4 separate regions of the Homo sapiens genome follow, and regions 2, 3 and 4 are each linked to region 1. Evidence: fine-mapped expression QTL. A gene starts in region 1. Each other region holds a variant in brackets. All regions are shown on one strand. Distances are from middle to middle. Region 1 holds the start of ACYP2 (acylphosphatase 2). Region 2 has its middle 55 kb from the start of ACYP2. Region 3 overlaps PSME4 (proteasome activator subunit 4). Region 4 overlaps ASB3 (ankyrin repeat and SOCS box containing 3).

The links. PIP is the estimated chance that this variant, and not a neighbour inherited with it, causes the effect. A credible set is the group of variants that fine-mapping cannot tell apart.
Region 2: its variant is the best candidate, but not a certain one, in a credible set for the expression of ACYP2 in fibroblasts (GTEx, PIP 0.75).
Region 3: its variant is the best candidate, but not a certain one, in a credible set for the expression of ACYP2 in fibroblasts (GTEx, PIP 0.65).
Region 4: its variant is the best candidate, but not a certain one, in a credible set for the expression of ACYP2 in stomach (GTEx, PIP 0.66).

Annotation. Positions count from the first base shown.
Region 1 is chr2:54,112,520-54,117,673 of GRCh38, reverse strand. ACYP2 (acylphosphatase 2) reads right to left here and starts at 2,059. Exons shown (of 4, transcript NM_138448.4): 1 at 1,918-2,059. The coding sequence starts at 1,975. RefSeq lists silencers at 1,611-1,670, 2,161-2,230.
Region 2 is chr2:54,057,807-54,062,960 of GRCh38, reverse strand. It overlaps a transcript of ACYP2 not described here. Among named protein-coding and RNA genes, the nearest start is that of ACYP2, 55 kb to the left of the region's middle. The variant A/T (reference allele first, on the strand shown) is at 2,340.
Region 3 is chr2:53,886,692-53,891,845 of GRCh38, reverse strand. It overlaps PSME4 (proteasome activator subunit 4), which reads left to right. Exons shown (of 47, transcript NM_014614.3): 37 at 1,638-1,742; 38 at 3,034-3,125; 39 at 3,857-3,988; 40 at 4,379-4,587. Among named protein-coding and RNA genes, the nearest start is that of GPR75-ASB3, 29 kb to the right of the region's middle. The variant A/G (reference allele first, on the strand shown) is at 2,634.
Region 4 is chr2:53,685,684-53,690,837 of GRCh38, reverse strand. All of the region lies in intron 9 of ASB3 (ankyrin repeat and SOCS box containing 3), which reads left to right. The region is part of intron 9 of GPR75-ASB3 (GPR75-ASB3 readthrough); the gene reads left to right. Among named protein-coding and RNA genes, the nearest start is that of CHAC2, 80 kb to the left of the region's middle. The variant C/A (reference allele first, on the strand shown) is at 2,664.

The DNA of each region.
Region 1 (5,154 bases):
TACCAAATACAAGGATAATTCAACTCTTCCACCAACCGAGGTTCCATAAACACCCCCAGTCTTCTCATTAATAAATTTCTGGCTGAGTGCAGTGGCTCACGCCTGTAATCCCATCACTTTGGGAGGCGAAGTGCAGGAGGATCCCTTGAAGCCAGGATTTCGAGACTTGCCTGGGCAACAGAGACCCTTTCTCTACAAAAAAATTTTAAAAATTAGTCATGCATGGTGGCATGAGCCTGTAGTCCCAGCTGCTTAGAAGGCTGAGGCAGAAGATCACTTGAGCCCAGGAGTTCCAGGCTGCAGTGAGCTATGATTGTGCCATTGCACTTGCTCCAGTCTGGGTGACAGAGCAAGACTCCATCTCTTAAAAAAATAAAATTAAAAAAATAAACTTCTAACACAAATTTACCTTTAAATTTTAATAATGTTTATCATACTTTTTATATTTTCATCTAGTGTTCTAATAATAATTTCAATAATAACTCCATCCAGACAAAAAATTTAATACTTGGAGCTGTTGAATACAATGAGTTCTAAATTTCTCTTCAAAGAATCAGTATGTCAGTATGCTCGGTTCTTTGCGCTCTAAAGTCTAGCTTCCTCGTTCTCCTCGCCTCTAGTTTCAGTAAACAACCTTTTCCACCAGTTCTAATCAGTAGTTCACCTCTATTCCTCTGGTCACCTGCTCCATCCTGAGTCACCCCTGGTCACCTGCTCTGACCTGAATCATCCTGAGTCACCTGTTCTGTAACCACCCTTCCTGCCAAATTATTCACCCCGCCACTTGAGCTCGTACGCCTGCTCTTTAAAATAGCCAGTCGGAATTAGCTTAGACTGTGCGGTCCAACCCTAGCCAGTAGGGGAAAGACACAGCAGTAGAGGCTACCTGCATCAGGAATAAGAACCCCTTCCCCTCCCCTGTTCAGGTGTGCCGTTGCCATTGCTTCATCCGCGAGTCGCACCCTTCTATAGAGGTAAAATTGCCTTGCTGAGAAAATTCTTTGAGCGCTAGTTCTTCTTTTTGGCACCAAAGAACCAGCATTTGTTTCTAAGAGAGCCTTATTGTCAAAGGAAATTAAGAAAAAGCATTACACTTATTCATACATGTGCATATATGTACATATACATATTGCAGAAAAGTATGATAGGGTGAGCAAAAAAAAAAAAAAAACCCTCAAGCAAAACAATGGGGTAATTCGGTGGGAAAAGTGAAATGAAAATCAAATTCAAAGAGGAAAAGAAATGAGTAAAATTTCCCATTGTTGAAGAGTTTTATTTTAAATGAAGATGGTGGATGTTAAATCACTACCCTATTTATATTCCATTGCATAAATCTCAGAGTGACTTAATATTTTCATTTATAAATATCAATATTTTCAACAAGCCAGACATTACAAACTTGGCAACTACTTAAACTTAGGATGAAACAAAAATTAGATAACAATTTCATTCTTTTAAGAGCTACAAAGAGGTCTAAAAAAAGGTTTGACCTCTGAAAAATTAACCTTAAACCATCTAAGTGTCCTTCCTAAAACTCAAGTCAAGCCCAGGTAGCTTCAGTGGCAAGCAACGAGACCACTAGTTAAAAGACCCTCTTCTTTTCCTACCCAACTTCAACATTCCCCCGTGCCGCTTACTCCCGCACCCAGCAGCCGCCCACTTCTGGTCCTCAGCAGTCCCCTGACCCCTCCTCTCCCGCTCCCCCACTTCCCTCCCCATTCCCGTACTTCCGCCCGTCCAAGTCCTCGGGCGCATGCGCGTTTCGCCTCCCTCCCCGCCGCCGCTGCTGTGTCATGGCGGAGCGGAAGTCCCAGCCACAACGGGAAAAGGCATACTTTAGGTGGGAGGCGCTTCTCACAGCTTTCTCCCCTTCCTCCCATAACCTTTTTGATCTCCCACCGTAGAGGGGCCTCCTACCCTGCACTCTTCCGAACACCTCGTAGTCCACGGATTTGAGTGACTGGGCGGTAGACATGGCGGCGGCGAGCCCTCTGTTGAGGAGCCGGAGAGGGGCTCGGGGCGCAGCGACTGCGGCGGCTGCGAGAGGGAGGGGACACATGGGACTGCTTGGCGCACCCCGCGCCTGTCACCGGTCCCGGACGCTAGCGCGCCGGGGTCACGCGTCGGAAGCGGCAAATGAGACTGCGGGGCCTGGGAGCGAGGGCAGCCGGGGACGCCAGGAGGGAAGAGGCCGCTGGGCCCCAGGCATCCTAGGCCTCTCTTCCCGGACTGGGGAGGATGCTGTCTCCACAGCGCTCCCTACCATTTAATTGATCAAGGTACTCTGTTCTCAAAGTTAGTAAATAAAAGCCGGATGCTGTGCCCAAAAAAAGAGTGGCTTCCCCCAGCTTTATTAAAGTGTAATTGACAAATAAAAGTTGGGTATATTTGTGGTGTACAAGGTGATGTTTTGACATATGTATGCATTGTGAAATGATTACATCAATGAAATTAACGTATCCATTGCACCATTTTTTAATGAAGAGAACATTTAAGATCTACTCTCATCAATTTTTAAGGACACAATACATTTATCGCAGTCACCATGTTAGACAACAGATCTTCAGAACTTATTATTCACACTAACTGAAACTTTGTACCCTTTGACCAATATCTCCCCATTTCCAACCCCTTTCATCCCCCATCCCAGGTCCCCCACCCCACTCCATCCCAGCAAGATTGGCTTTTGAAATCAAGGGCCTGCGTGTTTAGTGTTTTGAGAGTTAGTAAATTATTTATGAAATGTTTAGGTGACTACCAAGCCAGCTTTTAAGATAAGGTCTGCAACATCTTGAGCTCTTCTGTACAGTCAGGAAGGAATTGAGCCTGAACTCGTATTCTAAACGGATTGTGATATTTTCTGGGATAAGAAACTTTTTAAAAATATGAAGTCTTTTATGCTAGTGGAAACAGACAAAAGAAAAACACTGTAGTCATCTTGTCTGCTGTTCATACAGTTTTTTTGGTGTGGGTTTGTTGCTGTTGTTTTGAGACGGAGTTTCGCTCTTGTCTCCCAGACTGGAGTGCAGTAGTGCAATCTCAGCTCACAGCAGCCTCCACCTCCCAGGTTCAAGAAATTGTCCTGCCTCAGCCTTCCAAGTAGCTGGGATTACAGGCATGCGCCACCTCACCCAGCTAATTTTTGTATTTTTAGTGGAGACGGGGTTTCACCATGTTGTCCAGGCTAGTCTCAAACTCCTGACCTCAGGTGATCCACCTGCCTCGGCCTCCCAAAGTGCTGGGATTACAGGTGTGAGCCACCACACCCGACCTTTTTTTTTTTTTTTTTTTTTGATTGTCTTGATTATTCTCAGCAACATCCCAATTGCCTAGAAGGTTAAGGCTGAATTTTATTTCCTGGTGAGCTATTACCAAGTTTTAATATAAAACCATCCACCACTCCAAAGGATCTGGATACAGCTATTGATAATCTGCCACCTTCTAGAATTCCAAATCTGTTTACTTGTGAGAATTTGCATTTCTCTATTTGTTGGCCTCAATACCTTGGCATATTTCTCTGCATCTGGCCACACAGTTAAAATAATCCACTGCAATCTGATTCAATATACTGTGCCAATTCTATTAGAGAACACCAAAAATCATCCAAAACTTGGTTAGAATATGGTTAAATCATTTTTAAAGTAAAATATATTCTGGAAATGCTAGTGCAGTTAATTTATGTAGTGAAGGTCTTAGTTTATTGCAGAGACCTCGTAACTTAACTCTTCCATCTCCCAGTTCATTCCATGCAGACTCTAGAATCAACATAAATTTTAAATCATTCTTCTTAATACGTTCAAAATAGAACCTAAGGTCTTCAGCCTCCACTACCTGCTTATGCAAATCCTGCATTTAAACTATAGTCAAGACACTCTCGGTTATTCTGCTCTCTCAGTACAGAGGTTTAAAACAAAGAACCTCTTCTCTTGGGTCTACTCTATCTGGAATGCCTCCCCCTTCTCCAAAATCTTCCTCTATCCCGCTCAGTCATCTCTGCGAGTGGTTACCAGATTTTATCCTAGTTATTTAGTGTGCCTTCCCCACTAGTACAGTCAGCCATCCATATTAGCAGGTTCTGCATCCATAGATTCAACCAACCTCAAACAGAATTTTTTTTTTTAAGTATCTTGGCCTGCACGGTGGCTCACACCTGTAATCCCAACATGTTGGGAGGCCAAGGCTGGCGAACAGCTTGAGCCCAGGAGTTAGAGATGACCAGCCTGGACAATACAGTGAAGCCCCGCCTCTATAAAAAATACAAAAATTACCTGGCTGTGGTGGCCTGTGCCTGTAGTCCCAGCTACTTGGGAGGCTGAGGTGGGAGTAGGATCACTTTTGCCCAGGAGGCAGAGGTTGCAGTGAACCGAGATGGGGCCACTGCACTCCAGCCTGGGTGACAGAGCGAGACCCTGTCTCCAAAAAAAAAAAAAAAAGTCATCTCTACTGAACTCATGCAGACTCTTGTTTCTTGTCATCATTCCCTGAACAATACAGTATAATAGCATTTACATCGCATTAGGTATTTTAAATAATCTAGAGATGACTTAAAACATACAGGACAATATGTGTATGTATGTTTCTATTAGGAACTTGAACATTCCAGGATTTTTATATCCAAGGGGATTCCTGGAACCAATCCCCTGCAGATAACAACGGACAACTATAGCATAGCTTCTAAGTAGTCACTGACTGGGAAGGTTGACATTTTCCTTTTCTTAATCTTTGACTTTTCTCCACATTTACCCAAGAGTACCCCTGCCAATTATTAGGTAGGTTTATTTGAATTTTAGAAGTGCTATAGCAACAATTGACATTTGCTTAGCTGAAAAATTTGCTGTGTCTGCCAGCAGTCTAACATTAGCAAACGGAAATTTTTATGTACCATTTCGGCATGGATTGCCAATAATATGTGATTCTAAGTCTTTAGAAAATGTACGCAAATGTTTCTAATATATGTTTTAAGTAATTATAGTATGAATGCAACTTTTATTCTTCTTTTCCATGTTGTAGTCTTTCCAATGAATATTTTAATAAATCACATTAGGTGGATAAACCACACATTTACCTACTGTGAGTCCCTGTTGTTACATATTCAGGCTGCTTCTCATTTTTCACTACCATAAAAAAGAAAATATTTATGCATGTAGCTTCCTT
Region 2 (5,154 bases), 55 kb after region 1:
ATTGTGCTTTAAATAGTCGAATTCTTAAGCCTTTAATAACTAGAACAGAGAAGTCATGTCTGTCTACTTCCTTGCCAGCCAGGCTGTTTTCCTGTTTTTTCTTTTTTGTTCATCCAATAAAATGTGCTTCAACTGCAAAATCTCTGTGACCTTGCCTAAAGTGAGCTAAAATTCTACGAGTTTACTTTTATTTTGCCCAAAATTTATCTTGCTAAGTTAACTTTTCTAGGTAATTTGTTGAGAGCTCATTCTATGGTATACATGTAGAAAGCTAACTTAATCAGGCTTCATGATAACCAGAAAGTCTAAACCATAATGCACAGCAGACATTCCAGTTTAAAACTCTTTGCCTTTGTGCTATATTAAAATGTGCCTTGAAACAGGCATGATGCCATATGATGAATAACATATGGTACATGACAGTCCCTATTCATATGGAAAATATGTTAATGATATCCTATATAGGAAGTAAAAGTGGAACCAGATTTATTTTTCTATATAGGTTGATCTGGTCTCAGCAACTAAAAATACTTATTTTCAATGTCACAGTGGAAATGAGATGGAGGCTGAATAGAGATGGCTGGTATGTGAGGTCACTTACAAAATAATCTACCAGATAAAAACAGGTGTATGATTGGGGAGGTCAGACTCAAAGTAATGTTGAGGGCAAATAGGAGATGTTTAGAGAAGCCCCTGAGCCGTAGCAAGGGAGTCGTTCAAGCCCAAGCTCTACCCCAGGTCCAGAGAACCCATGCCTTCCTGTGAGAAACAGACTCTGTAACCCCCAGATGTTACTCCCTCAAGCCTTGTGGAATGTGCTTATTTTTTCTGGCTAGAGCTCTATGAGACCCAATGCCCCCTTTTAATAACAATAGTTTGTAATATCTCCTTTACTTTCCTGAAATGGAATTCAGAGGCAATGCAACTTACGCAAAACACTTTAAAGCCAATATAATGATCTAACTATGTAAGATATTAATAAAATACATTTACAGGCCTGGCACAGTTGTTCACATCTGTAATCTGCGCCCTGTTAAGTTTTTATTTTTTATAGAGGCAGGGTCTCATTACGTTGCCTAGGGTAGTCACAAACTCTTGGGCTCAAGCAATCCTCCCACCTTGCCCTCTCAAAATGACGGGACTACAGCCTTGAGCCACCATGTCCAGACCAGACCTTGATTTTATAGTTCTGACATCCAGAATTATAAGAAAATAAATGTGTTGTATTACATCACTCTGCTTGTGGCCATTTGTTACAGCAGCTGTAGGAAACTAACATGCATGGTAACTGATTATTTTCTAAGCCTGATTCTAAAACCTTCTCATAAATTTCATGAACTAACCAATAGGCTCCCATTAAAACCCTTTTATGCTAAAGCCAATCAGAGTTGGTTTCTAGTATGTCCAACAAAGGACCCAGGCTGGTACAATTATAGACCAGCCCTCTAAGGTTCACCAGTAAGAAAACAACATCATCAGCAACTTTAGTCTCTGTTCAGGAGTCATACTCCCATGAGAGTGAAACTAATTTTCCAGATTAGAGCACGTGTCCACCTCTGTGGTCAGAGGGCTGATGTCTGGTGGGCAGCCCCACCAGAACCACACAAATTGGGGAAGGGGAAGTTTGCTCAAAGTAATGAATTAAGTGTTTTTACCAGGAAGGAGGAAAATAACCCCAGCAAGTCAAAACCAACATATTTTTAATAATGTAATATTTCTAAGACATAAAAGTCATCTTCATATCCAAAAGTTGGATTGCCAAAATAAAAAACCAATAAGGAACTTCCAGCTAAATATGGCAGATTGGCCAGACATGGTGGCTTGTGCCTGTAATCCCAGCACTTTGGGAGGCCAAGGCATGAGGATCACTTGAGCCCACAAGTTCAAGACCAAGCCTGGGTAATATAGGGAGACCATGCCTCTATGAAAAAATAATTAATTAATTAAAATATATATGGCAGATAAATTAAATGTGTTTGTCTTCTCTTTTTTTCTGAAATTTCATCTAAAAATGGTATAAAACATAAGGGCAGGTAGGAAATGAATATCAGCAGACAAAAAAAAACAAGTATTTGAAAGCTAGGATACAAATGAAAGAATGGTAAATAACGTTACCAAGCAAAAGAAGCTAAAATCTGTTTTCAAAGCAGTGGATCCCAAGAAGCAGCCAAGCACTTTACTCTGCAGGCATTCAAAAAGGCTGAGGACTTAGAAGCATTTGAGAACATCCTGTGCATAAAAAGCAGCATTTCATGCCTTATGACTACACATGGGTGGCTAGAGAATCTGATAAAATTCTATCATACCAAAATAAAATGTATTTGGGCAAATAAATTAGT[A/T]GAACCTACTTACCTCTGCAGAAAATTAATAAATTAGGTTATTAAAAGTAGAAATAGATAACTAAGATTATAAGATATTTGAGGAAAGCCTCCAACCTCAACAATAAATCCCAGAAGAAACAAAGACAGTAAAAGGAACAAAACAAAACTTTACTAAAATTATAATTGAATCATTGGAGAGATCAAAAAACATTATATCCATAAAAGAAGATGATTATTTTTTAAAAAGGAATAATCAGAACAAGAATAAGTTTATAGAAATTAAAAATATGGCCATGAAACAAAAAAAGTCAATAAAAGTATTAGAAGATAAAAGCAAACGAATCTAGAAAGTAAACTCAAAAGATAAAAAAGATAGCCAAAAAGAGAGAAAAAAATAAGATGCTTAAATATTCATTCCAGGATGTGCAACATCTGACTCATAGGATTTTCAGAAAAAGAAAACAGAGAGATGAATAAACTGATGGGAAGAAATCCTCAAATAAATCCAAGAAGAAAATATCCCAGAGTTGAAGTAATTCAATTTAGACATACAATTTCAGATTGGAAGGTCCCATTAAGTGCTCAGCCCAATGAATTAAAAAAGACTTACACCAAGTCACAGTATGGAATTTCAGGAAACTAAGAAAAAACTTGGAATTGCTAGAGGACTGGGGATGGGAGGCAAGCACATTAAAAGAATGTGGAATCAGAATGGGCATCAAACTTGCTGGTAGCAACTGAGTTCAGAAGACAATGAAGCAATCCTTTCCCAGTTCTAACAGGAAGTTATTTTCATCCTAGAACTCTATTCATATCCTTAAGTAACAAACAACTGTGCAGGTAAACATACAAGGCATCCATGCACTCTTGCTCACCCTACTGAAGGATGAGTCCCAGCACAATTGTTACCAATGGAGTGACCTAACCAAAATAAAACAAAACAAAAGAAATGGAAGATGGAAAACAGGGAATGTCCTGGGATGACAATCAAGACAGCAACCAGTCCAGACAGGATCAGGAAGACAGAGACCACAAATAGATTATCTGAAATGTTGAATGTAGTATTAGTCAGCATCTGAAAATCTAACGAAACATTTGGTTGAATTGATAGAAAAATAATAAGATGCTCGCCGTGCATGGTGGCTGACACCTGTAATCCCAGCACTTTGGGAGGCCAAAAAGGGTGGATCACCTGAGGTCACGACCAGCCTGGCCAACATGGTGAAACCCTATCTCTACTAAAAATACAAAAAATTAGCCAGGCATGGTTGCAGGCGCCTGTAATCCCAGCTTTTCCAGAGGCTGAGTCAGGAGAATCACTTGAACCTGGGAGGTGGAGGTTGCAGTGGGCCAAGATTGAGCCATTGCACTCCAGCCCGGGCAACAAGAGCAAAATTCCAACTCAAAAGAAAAAAAAGAAAAAGAAAAAGAAAGAAAGAAAGAAAAATGATAAGATGGAAAGCTAGGCAATTCTTAACTCAAAAGAAAGAAAACAAAAGGTTGTGATACAGCAGGAACATCACCATCTTGGACAAACCCCTCATTCTAAAGTTCACCTTAATAAAAAACTGCCTAAATCCAAAGGGCATCAGCCTAATGGCTTAGGCCAGCATGACCATAAACCACAAATAACATCTCCAACCAGAAACTTTCCAAACCCCTCCGTGACCAGAGACATGCTAGCCATGAGATAACCCACCTCCAGTGGGGAAGATACCAGCCTTGAGATAACCCCCATCTGGGTGGAAAGATGTCTGCCCCAAGATAAACATCCCTCCTCCCAGAGACATTCCAACCCCACCATAAAACTTCTCCCTCACACAGAAACATTCCAAGCTTATAATAAGCCCCTTCACCCTAAGACCAATATATACTCCAATATATAGTCTGTAAGAGAAAGTGCTCCTGACCAAAAAAAAAAAAAAAAAAATTATCAGCCAGAAGCCCCTCTCATGTTTTATCTAAAGTAAACCTGTCTTAACTGCCAAGCCACATTTTGTGTTTCTTTCCTCTTTCTTTAACTCTTACAGGTGGTACAATGAAGGATAAGTAGTCAAAGTACAATACTTGGGTTACCAATGACCAACACTGACATCATAATGTAAATACTCGATATTGAATTAACTAGAAATGAAGTTAGAATTATATTAGAATGACAGGAGAGGGAAATATGTGTGTGTCAGGGGTTAATAGATAATATCTAAAATTTGTAAATGAAGACATAGGTGTATAATGATAGGCATTTTATATCAGGAAAAACTACTGAAGATTTAAAAGCCCCTGGGAAGCACAGCTGAGGGGAGGGAGAAGGTACTGCTTTTTTTTTTTTTAATATAAGCTTTGTAGTACTATTTAATATTGTATATAGCTTTGTACTACTTTGATAAAACAAACTGATAACCCTGCCCCCAAAAAGAACCAATGAGAATAAGTCCAGAGCTTATTCACATTTTAGCTTGTATCATGCGTTAACACCAACACTCCATTTAATGTGAATTATCTTCAAAGACCCAATATTTACTAAATTTAGGAAGAGACCAATCATTGCTTCATATGCCCTACCTCCCTCAGGGACCAATACTTGAATTTTCAAAGCATTATTCACAAAGGGAAAAATATTTTCTCCTATTTTCTATGTGTGATAAGTGAATATCCCAAAGCATGAAATATGAATTTAAAATATTTGTTTTCCAAATGTTCATTGATTCTTTACATTTACTACACCACATCTGTTTGGCATTTAATAACCAAATCAAAAGCCTCTCTTCCTCTGCTCTGCCTTAGCCACTCAATCCCCTCTCAAATGGTGACCTCATTACATCACCCAGGGCCT
Region 3 (5,154 bases), 230 kb after region 1:
CTATCGCCCTATCGCCCAGGCTGGAGTACAGTAGTGTGATCATTGCTCACTGCAACCTCTGCTCCCTGGGTTCAAGCAATGCCTCAGCCACCTTCAGTAGCTGGGATTACAGGCATGCGCCACCTTGTCAGGCTAATTTTTGTATTTTTAATAGAGGCAGGGTTTCTCCATGTGGCCAGGCTGGTCTCGAACTCCTGGCTCTTGAACTCCACCTACCTTGGCCTCCCAAAGTGCTGGGATTACAGGTGTGAGCTACTGTGCCTGGCCTTCATTCATTCTTTTAAAAAAAAAAATTCAAAATTTTTTTAGGAACTTAAAAAATTAATAATAGTAACTGTTCATGTTTATGGGGTACATGTGATATTTTGATACATGCACACAATGTGTAATGATGAAATCAAGGTATATCCTTTTTAACTAAAATACAGTCCATGGACCTGCAGCAGGGGTAGCACTTGGAAGCTTTTTAGGAAAGTAAGATCTCAGGCCCACTTGACATGAATCAATCTGCATTTTATCAAGACCTCAAGGTGATTTGTATGCTCATTAACCTATGAGAAAATCTATGTGTGTAAATGCAGTCTCTGTACGACGTACATGTTTTTATGGGCTATTTATCCAAGACTTGGAATTTGAAGATTATATCTCAGGCTGATTACTAAATTAAATTAAAATGTCATTGCCTCTTTAAGGTTTAATCAAATGATCTTGATAAACATGGAAAACTTGATTGAGGTTTTGTTTCAGCCTAGCGTACTATTATACAAGATTTTTAAGAACACATCAGTCATATGAGAGATTTGTTTTGTTTTGTTTTTTTAGACGGAGTCTTGCTCCGTTGCTTAGGCTGGAATGCAGTGGGATGATCTCGGCTCACTGCAACCTCTGCCTCCCAGGTTCAAGCAATTCTCCTGCCTCAGCCTCCCGAGTAGTTGGGATTACAGGCATGTGCCACTACGCTCAGCTAATCTTTATTTTTTTTGTAGAGACATGGTTTCGCCATGTGACCAGCTTGATCTTGAACTCCTGATTTCAAGTGATCCTCCTGCCTTGGCCTCCCAAAGTTCTCGGATTACAGGCAGGAGCCACTGCACCCAGCCAAGAGATACTTTTTAAAGCGCCATGCAAAGTATTTACTCTTTTCTGAATATTTTTTGGGAAAAAATTTCACCTATACCTGGATATGTATGGTGATAATGTACTTTGCTGGATTATTTGGGTGCTCTAAAAAATAATTAGGGCCAGGCATGCTAGCTCATGCCTATAATTCCAGCACTTTGGGAGGCCAAGGTGAGAGGATTGCTTGAGGCTAGGAGTTCAAGACCAGCCTGGGCAACATAGCAAGATCCTGTTTTTACAAAACATAAAAAATATTTCAGGGCATAGTGGCACACACCTATAGTCCATGCTCCTTGGAAGGCTGAAGCGAGTGGATCACTTGAGCTCAGAAGCCTAAGGCTACATCGAGGTATGATCATTCCACTGCACTCCAGCCTGGGCAATAGCATGAGACCATGTCTCAAAAATAATTTAAATGATATACCTGTATGTGTGTACATTTCCAGGTAAAGAAAGATATTTGAAGAAAAATGTTCTGAGTGTCATTAACTCTTACCCATATATTTTGTTTTGAGTAGGTGGAGAAGCTTTGGGAGCTTCTGTGCCCTCTGCTTAGAACAGCACTGTCCAATATTACCGTAGAAACTTATAATGACTGGGGAGCTTGTATAGCAACATCCTGTGTAAGTTACCCTACATCTTTCTTTGTCTAACTGATCTATTCAAACTGTTTGATACTGTCTCTCAAAGTGTGTGAAATCTCATAACACTTCTTAAATCTTTTTGGGTTTTGTTTTTTAATTGTTTTTATTTTTTATTTCCATGGGATTAGAGACTATTATTCTAAGTGAGGTAACTCACTTCTTGAATCTTGAAAGTTTGTTCATACTTTTGTCATCTTATGTAATTGGAGATGGCTCTATTCAGCCTTTCAAATAAGTCTTGAGAAGTAACTCTTAAGTGATTATTATATCTTCTCTGCTGTGGTAATGCATTTTAAAATTAAGTGACAGTCATGTATTTGGAAATGTCACTTACATATAGTAAAAGCCACATAATACAAAGTTATAGGTATTATTTTTTATACCAGATATGTCCATAGCTCGTGTACTTTGATTGAAGATAATCCATTTAGCTAACAACAGCTTTCTCACTGTTAACTTGAACTGCGATAGTCACATTTGAGTTTGAGTCACCTATCAGTTTTAGTTTGATTTTCTTCTCCTGTACAGTCAGCCCTCCATATCCATGAGTTCCACATCTGTGGTTTCAGCCAACCTGAGGAGATGGAGAATATTTCAGAAGGGGGTGGGGGGATGGTTGTGTCTATAGTGAACCTGTTCAGATTTTTTTTTTCTTGTCATTATTCCCTAAACAATACAGTATAACAGCTATTTACATAGCATTTACATTGTATTAGGTATTACAAATACTCTAGAGAAGATTTAAAGTGTACAGGAGGATGTGCATAGGTTATATGTAAATACTACACCATTTTCATAACAGACTTGAACATCTGTGGATTTTGGTATCCTAAGGGAGTTCTGGAACCAATCCACCACAGATACCAAGGG[A/G]CGACTATACTTATATATGTTTTCAGTATTTCTAAAATAATTGAATATGGCTGGGTGCACTAGCTCTCAACTTTAATCGCAGAACTTTGGGAGGCCGAGGCAGGAAGATAGCTTGGGGCCAGGAGTTGGAGACCAGCCTGGGCAACGTAGGGAGACTCTGTCTCTACAAAAAATAAAAAATTAGCCAGGCATAGTGGCGCATGCCTGTGGTCCCAGCTACTTGAGAGACCGAGGCGGGTGGATTACTTGAGCCTGGGAGGCAATCATACCACTTCACTCCAGCCTGGGCAACAGAGTTAGACCTAGCCTCAAAAATAAAATTAAATTAAATAACTGAGTATGATTTGTTTACAGAATTGTAGGTTCTCTGTTGAACTGTTACATCATATTTTAAACACAGGAAAGCAGAGATCCCCGGAAACTTCACTGGCTTTTTGAACTGCTGTTGGAATCACCATTGAGTGGTGAAGGAGGATCCTTTGTAGATGCATGGTAAATTTTTTTAAAAAACCTATGAGGTTAACACGAAAGGTTTTGTGTTAACTTATGTATAAATGGAAATGAATGGTCTATACTTGTAAAGTCTAGATGAAGTAATTACTTTCTTCTGGAAGGTGATGTGATCTGGTTCCATATAACATGTGATACTTAATAAGAGTTATTTATTAGTTGGACAAGTAAGTGAGATGTAGGCAACCTGAGCAATTTAAACACAAATTAGAGTCAGCATTCTTTGCTGTCAAATATTTTATCAGAATTGTCTTTTGTACTTTTGTGTCTTCATCACATCTTATTTTTCACTTTTTCCTGTTAAAAAGATACAAAGAAAGAGTAATCATTTCAAGGAAAAACTGCCTTGTTTGGGGCATATGGTGCTGTAGAAAGTTAGACAATAGTAATATGGATAATTTCATTAAAAAGAAGAAGCACTTAATTAATGAGAAAACTTGAATTGTGATGTTTAAATATTAGTCAGTGAGTATTCTTAAGTCAGTATTTCTTTCAGTTTTCTAGTAGTGTGGATGAAATGCAAATACAGAGAAAATGATATAGGAAAAATAAAATCTTCATAAAGAGGCTATTTTGAGTTGTGGATATTGTAGTATTTATTAAGTGAAAAAACGAAAAAGCTTTAAGTGAAATACAGATATTGTCTGTCCATACTGTCAATATGTAAAGGCAGAAAGGGCCTCCAATATAACACTACGATGCTTTAATTTTAGTCGACTTTATGTACTACAAGGTGGCCTTGCCCAGCAAGAATGGAGAGTGCCTGAACTATTGCACAGACTACTGAAGTACTTGGAACCCAAACTCACCCAGGTTTACAAAAATGTCAGAGAAAGAATAGGAAGGTAGGTACTGTTTTCTCTGTGGTGTACCTCTCGAGTTCTTTGTTTGTTTTTTTTTAAATTGTAATAGGTAATAATACATGCTGGTTATGTTGTCAGTGGGTTTCATGGTGTCTTTCTCAAATTGTTTGCTATTGTGTCGTGGGAAACAAGATGAAACACTCTGAATGTAAACTAGGACAGCAGTGTGCTCAGAAGCCAGAGATGAGCAGTCACAACACCTAAGTGTTAATACCCCTTAATTATAAGGCTTCTTTTACACACAGGCATAATCTAAGACCCACTCCAGGAATTGTCTTGGGACAGTTTACTTTGATTGGGTCATAACTTTTGAACCTCATTTTTATTTATAATGTGGCACCTCTTCCTATTATTAAGTATTTTATTTTGCAGTGTGCTGACCTACATATTCATGATAGATGTATCTTTGCCAAATACCACACCAACCATATCGCCTCATGTCCCTGAGTTTACTGCTCGAATTCTGGAGAAATTGAAACCTCTCATGGATGTGGATGAAGAAATTCAGAACCATGTTATGGAAGAAAATGGAATTGGTGAAGAAGATGAGCGAACTCAGGGCATTAAACTCTTGAAAACCAGTGAGTGGATAAAATTAGTAGAAACTCAGTTGAAAACATCTATTTGATTATCCTGTAGAGTTTTTTGCACCACTTTTTTTATTGTGGTAAAATAGACATAATGAAAAATTTACTGTTTTAACCATTTTTAAGTGTACAGTTCAGTGGCATTAAGTACATTCACATCCTTGCGCAACCATCATCACCATTTATCTCTAGAATCCTCTTCATCATACGAAACTGAAACTTTGTACCCTTTAACAACAGCTCCTCATTTTCCCTCCCCTCATCCTTTATAACCACTGTCTACTTTCCATCTCTGAATTTGCCCATTCTAGGTAGGTCACATAAGTTGAATCATAAGTCTTTTTTGTGTCTGGCTTATTTCATGTTACATAGTATTTTCAAGTTGAATGAATGAATTTCTGAATCATGTTGTGTCCTTAATCTGTTACCCATTCATCTGTTTGCTGGATATTTGGGTTTCCACCTTTGGCTATTGTGACTAATGCTGCTCTGAACATTGATGTTTGTATAAGTACCTGTTTGAGTTCCTGCTTTCAGTTCTTTAGGGTATGTACCTAGAAG
Region 4 (5,154 bases), 430 kb after region 1:
TCTTGATCTTTTTATTTCTGTGTTTCCCTGCTTTGTTTTGAAAAGGATTTAAAACAGTTTATATAATACATATATATTATCACAAAACAGTAAAACAGAAATTAAAAGTAGAAGGAAAAGAAAAACGAAAAAAAAAAGGTAGGAGATGGATAAAAAATGGAGTCAGGGAAAGCGTAGCAATGGGAATTTGATACTTGTCTGTTGATAGGCTGTACATTTGGCTCTGAGCTCTGTTGTCAATGACACTAGGTGACTGGGTTCATAAGATAAAATAAACCCATTCCTCAGAATAGATTTTCTTGGATGCTGTTACAGCTTCCTAGACAATGTCTTGGTAGCTGTGGTTTCTTGGGACTTTCTTTTACATGGACTGTTGTTATCATACCAAAGTACAATTCAGTAAAAGCAGTTCCTACGTAGTCATTACAGTGTGGTTCAGGTACCTAGACTTCTGTTGCTATGACTTGACCAAGAGCTAGATTTTAGAATATCTGTAAATGGATGGCCTGTGTGCCTTTTGAGCAGTTCTCTCTAAATATTGTATGTCTCAACTCAGTTTTTAATTTAATTAATTAATTAATTAATTTATTTATTTATTTGGGGGGACAGGGTCTTGTTCTGTTGACCAGGCTGGAGTGCAGTGGCATGATCATGGCTCACTGCAGCCTCTACCTCCTGGGCTCAAGCAATCTTCCCACCTCAGCCTCCCGAGTAGCTGGGATCATAGCCATGTGGCACCATGCCCAGCTAATTTTTGTATTTTTTGTTGAGACAGGGTTTCGCCATGTTACCCGGGCTGCTCTTGAACTCCTCCTGGGCTCAAGTGATCCTTCCACCTCAGCCTCCCAAAGTGCTGGTATTATAGGCATGAGACACTGTGCCTAGCTTCAGCTTAGTTTTTAGTAGTAGTACATAGCAATGAGTTCAAAGTTATACTACCTAAGAAGTATCAGAGTGCAGATATTTTGTATTGCAAATTGGATTGAGAACATATGTTTAAGTAACAGTTGATCTTCAAAGTAGAAGCAAAAGAAAAATGAAAAATGAAGGTTGATCTGTGGTAGGGTAAGTACTCCAGGAACATTATGAGGATTCCTAGCTAAATATGGTGGGCTAAGCAAGTATCCAGTTTAAGCAAAAATTTCCCTTGAAACTTTGAGCAATGCCCTAGTTTTGAGCAATGTTCTTTTCTCACATGCCCTTCAAGATAAATCATCTGTGGTAAGTACACCAAGGTAACTACATATGATAATTTATTTTATGAGATTGTTAGATGCAGAAACAAAGCTTAGGGTTAGGAATCATTGGTCTGTAATCCTTTCTGATAATAATGAACTAGCATTCCAGTTGTCTGCTAAAGCCATTTCTAGTTTAGGATAATAAAACCTATTAGTTTTTAAAAGAATATTTGTTTTTCTGTTTTCTTTAGCAAGAACATGTATCTTGCTCAGTTTATAACATATCATTAAGTCACTTGTTAAAAGATGAGAGTTGGAACACAACCTTATTTTATGCCAAAGAAAAATTTTAACTTTTCTGCTGACTTCAACCTTATGGTAATGCTCTGGTGCAGGTTCTGCATGAACAGCAGACAGAATATAATGGTTAAAGGTTGAAGCTCTAGAATTAAATAGACATGCCTCCATCACTTTCTCTTTTTTTTTTCCTTTGACTACCCAAATTTATTCATTTTAAACTTGACATGATTTATCTTTTTTAACTCTTAATATAGCACTAGACCCTCTTTAAAATTTCATGGAAATAAAGGATTTATGACATATTTAAAATTTACTGGCTAAAATTTTAAAAAAAATTTAGATCAATTTATTTTAGGCCATTGTAATCTGGTTTATATGGTCCTAGAGGGATAATTGTGTACCACAAATCCTTTTTCTTTTTTTTTTCTTACACTTTAAGTTCTGGGATACATGTGCAGGACGTGCAGGTGTGTTATGTAGGTATACACGTGCTCTGGTGGTTTGCTGCACCCATCAACGCATCTTCTACATTAGGTATTTCTCCTAATGCTATCCCTCCCCTAGCCCCCCACCTCCCAACAGGCCCCAGTGTGTGATGTTCCCCTCCCTGTGTGCATGTGTTCTCATTGTTCAACTCCCACTTATGAGTGAGAAAATGCAGTGTTTGGTTTTCTGTTCCTGTGTTAGTTTGCTGAGAGCCTCCATCACTTTCTAGCTATGGAGAAGTTACTTATATCCCTGAGCTTTGGTTTCCTCAATTATAAGAAGAGATGGTAATAGTAGCTACCTCATATCATTTTCACAATAGATCTTGTCATTGTGGCAAAGACAGACCTCAGTTAACTGAGTTCCGTTTCATTTTTATCTTCCCTGGAACAAAGAAAGACTGGATTTTTCAGCTTTGATTGTTACATGATTGAGGCAAGTGGTCAAAGCATAAACCATTGCATGTAAGCACTCTTTGCTCTCCCTTTCCTTGCTGAAGCAATTTGAAAGCTCATGTTTGAGATGGTGGTTACACAGGATGGTTGACACCTGGGACACTCAAGTGTCATTTTAGGAGAATTGCCTGACCTGCAGAGGATTTTGCATGAGCAAGAAGTAAACCTGTGTTGTATTAAGACACTGGTTTTTCGGGTTTATTTGTTAGCATAGCATAACCTAGCCTATAGCCAAGTTAACTTA[C/A]AACCAGATCCTATCCCAGAGTCAGTGACCAAGGAAAGGTCAATAAAAACAACAAATAGGCCAGGCGTGGTGGCTTACGCCTGTAATCCCACTTTGAGAGGCCGAGGTGGGAGGATTGCTTGAGGCCAGGAGTTCAAGACCAGTTGGGCAACATGGCAAGACCCCATCTCTACAAAATAAAATAAGAAAATTAGCCAGACATGGTGGTGAATGACTGTAGTCCCAGCTGCTTGGGGGAGGCATAGGCAGGAGGATCGCTTGAGCCCAGGAGATCAAGGCTGCAGTGAGCCGTGTTCATGCCATTGTACTCCAGCCTGGATGACAGAGCCTGATCCTGTCTCTTAAAAGATAAAAAAAGAGCTACAAATAATGGAGCAGTATATACTTGGTAAGAGTATTTATATGAGTGATCTATGGTGCAATAACTCACCACTTGCTCCTTATTTTAAACATTAATATGCAAAGCCCTAACTTACAGTTTTTAAAGGACATGTTCAATAAACTAAGTTTGGTGGGAAGTGGGGCAGTAGTGGGCCTTTTAAAATATATGGGTTAAACTGTGCAGTTTGTCTATCATGGGGGCCATGATCATAGAGTTAATAAAGCTAAATATTTAGTGAGAATCAGAGCCCATTCTTCACAGTAGTTCTTAACTCTAGATTCATTTCCTCTGGATGTTTTTCACCTGGGTGAGGCAGTATTACTAAGATCTCAATCAGTAATTGCCTGTTATCTTAAAAAACTGGACACATGACCTTTCATTTGTTGAGCTGGAAACTTTCAACCTCCCAGACACCAGCCATGTGTGGACCTTCACAAGTTTAGCAGATTCGTGCCTTGGTTAACATTGCCTACATTCTACCTTATTTCTAGATTTAAGAGCCAGACTGGGATTTTTGTTTTTGTTTTTGTTTTTTTTTTAGCGAGAAATTTATAGTTAAACTTGACATTTTAACAGGGTTCCAACTGCCCACTTACAATTTTAACTTCACATAGCCTCTTGTTAATCCAAGTTTTTTGGGTTTTGTTTTTGTGGGGAAATTCTTATTAAACTAGATACTAATGGGTTGTACTCACATTTGCTGGGACATTTTGCTGTTAAAACTATTTTAAAGTTATCAGCATGTCTGTTGGTACGTTAAGAAAGGAGCAATTGGCCAGGCGCCATGGCTCATGCCTGTAATCCCAGTACTTTGGGAGGCCAAGGCAGGCGGATCACCTGAGGTTGGGAGTTCGAGACCAGCCTGACAAACATGGAGAAACCTGTCTCTACTGAAAATACAAAATTAGCCGGGTGTGGTGGCAAGCGCCTGTAATCCCAGCTACTCGGGAGGCTGAGGCAGGAGAATCGCTTGATTCTCCTGCAGGAGGTGGAGGTTGCAGTGAGCCGAGATTGTGCCATTGCACTCCAGCCCGGGCAACAAGAATGAAACTCTGTCTCTCTCAGAAAATAAATAAATAAATAAATAAGGAGAAATTATGGCCTTAGAGTAAACAGAGGTGTTTTTTTTTACATGTTCTAAGTATGAGATCACCAGTATTGGTTTGAAAGCCCGTCCCACTCTTTCCACATAACTACTTTATTTATTCACTGTAGGATATTTACTAGGTTCCTGTCTAAAATAAGTATTATGAAAAAGCTAGTGTTAAATATCATCTAGCTTCTTAGGGAACTGAACAAGATTAGAAGGAAAGGTTTCTTGTAGCTGCTTAGATGACAGCTCCCTTGAACATGAAAAAATTAAAGGTGACCAATATATAAAAGGCACAAAACCGTGGCTCTGAGGAGGGTGTTGGGGGCAGTGGGTGAAAAATTGTTAAGGGGTTAATGCAGAGTTCATGGTCCTTGGTTTGAAAATGAGATATACTTTTATTTTCTCTATGATTTGTCTTTCATGGTTGGCCTGAATTACAGAATTTAGAACCTTAAAAATTAAAATAACCATCCAGAAGTAGAACTGACCCAATCACGAGAGCTCTCATTTTGCCCAAGTTTCCTGTTGGTTCTCAAGATGATCAAAGGAAGCTATAGAGAGTAGCACTTCAAGAGGCTTCTTCCATGATACTTCAGAAAGGGAAGGGGAGCAGAATCATGTGATAATAACGCGGCTTTAAAAAGGCTATTGTAAAGGTAGCACCAGAACCTCACTTCTGCATCCCTCTTGCCTCTTCTATCTGTCATGACCCTTTTTAAGGGAGTTCCCATGTGACAGTTCCATACAGGATCAGCCCAAGGCACTGGATGAAGCTTCTAAGAACAGATCATTTGTATCTATTGGAGATTGTGGAATTTTAAGACCCACCATTTCTTACATAAAGAAGGACTAGATTGTGTGAAATGTCAGCCAATGCCCTTTCTCCAGGTTAAATGTGTGATCTGCTCTAGAGTGTGTGATTTTGGGGAAAATTCTTTGTAACATGGTTCATGTTTTTTGGATAGAGATTCATAGTTGGTGCAGAATTCATCTGGAGGAGACAAAGAATTAGCAGA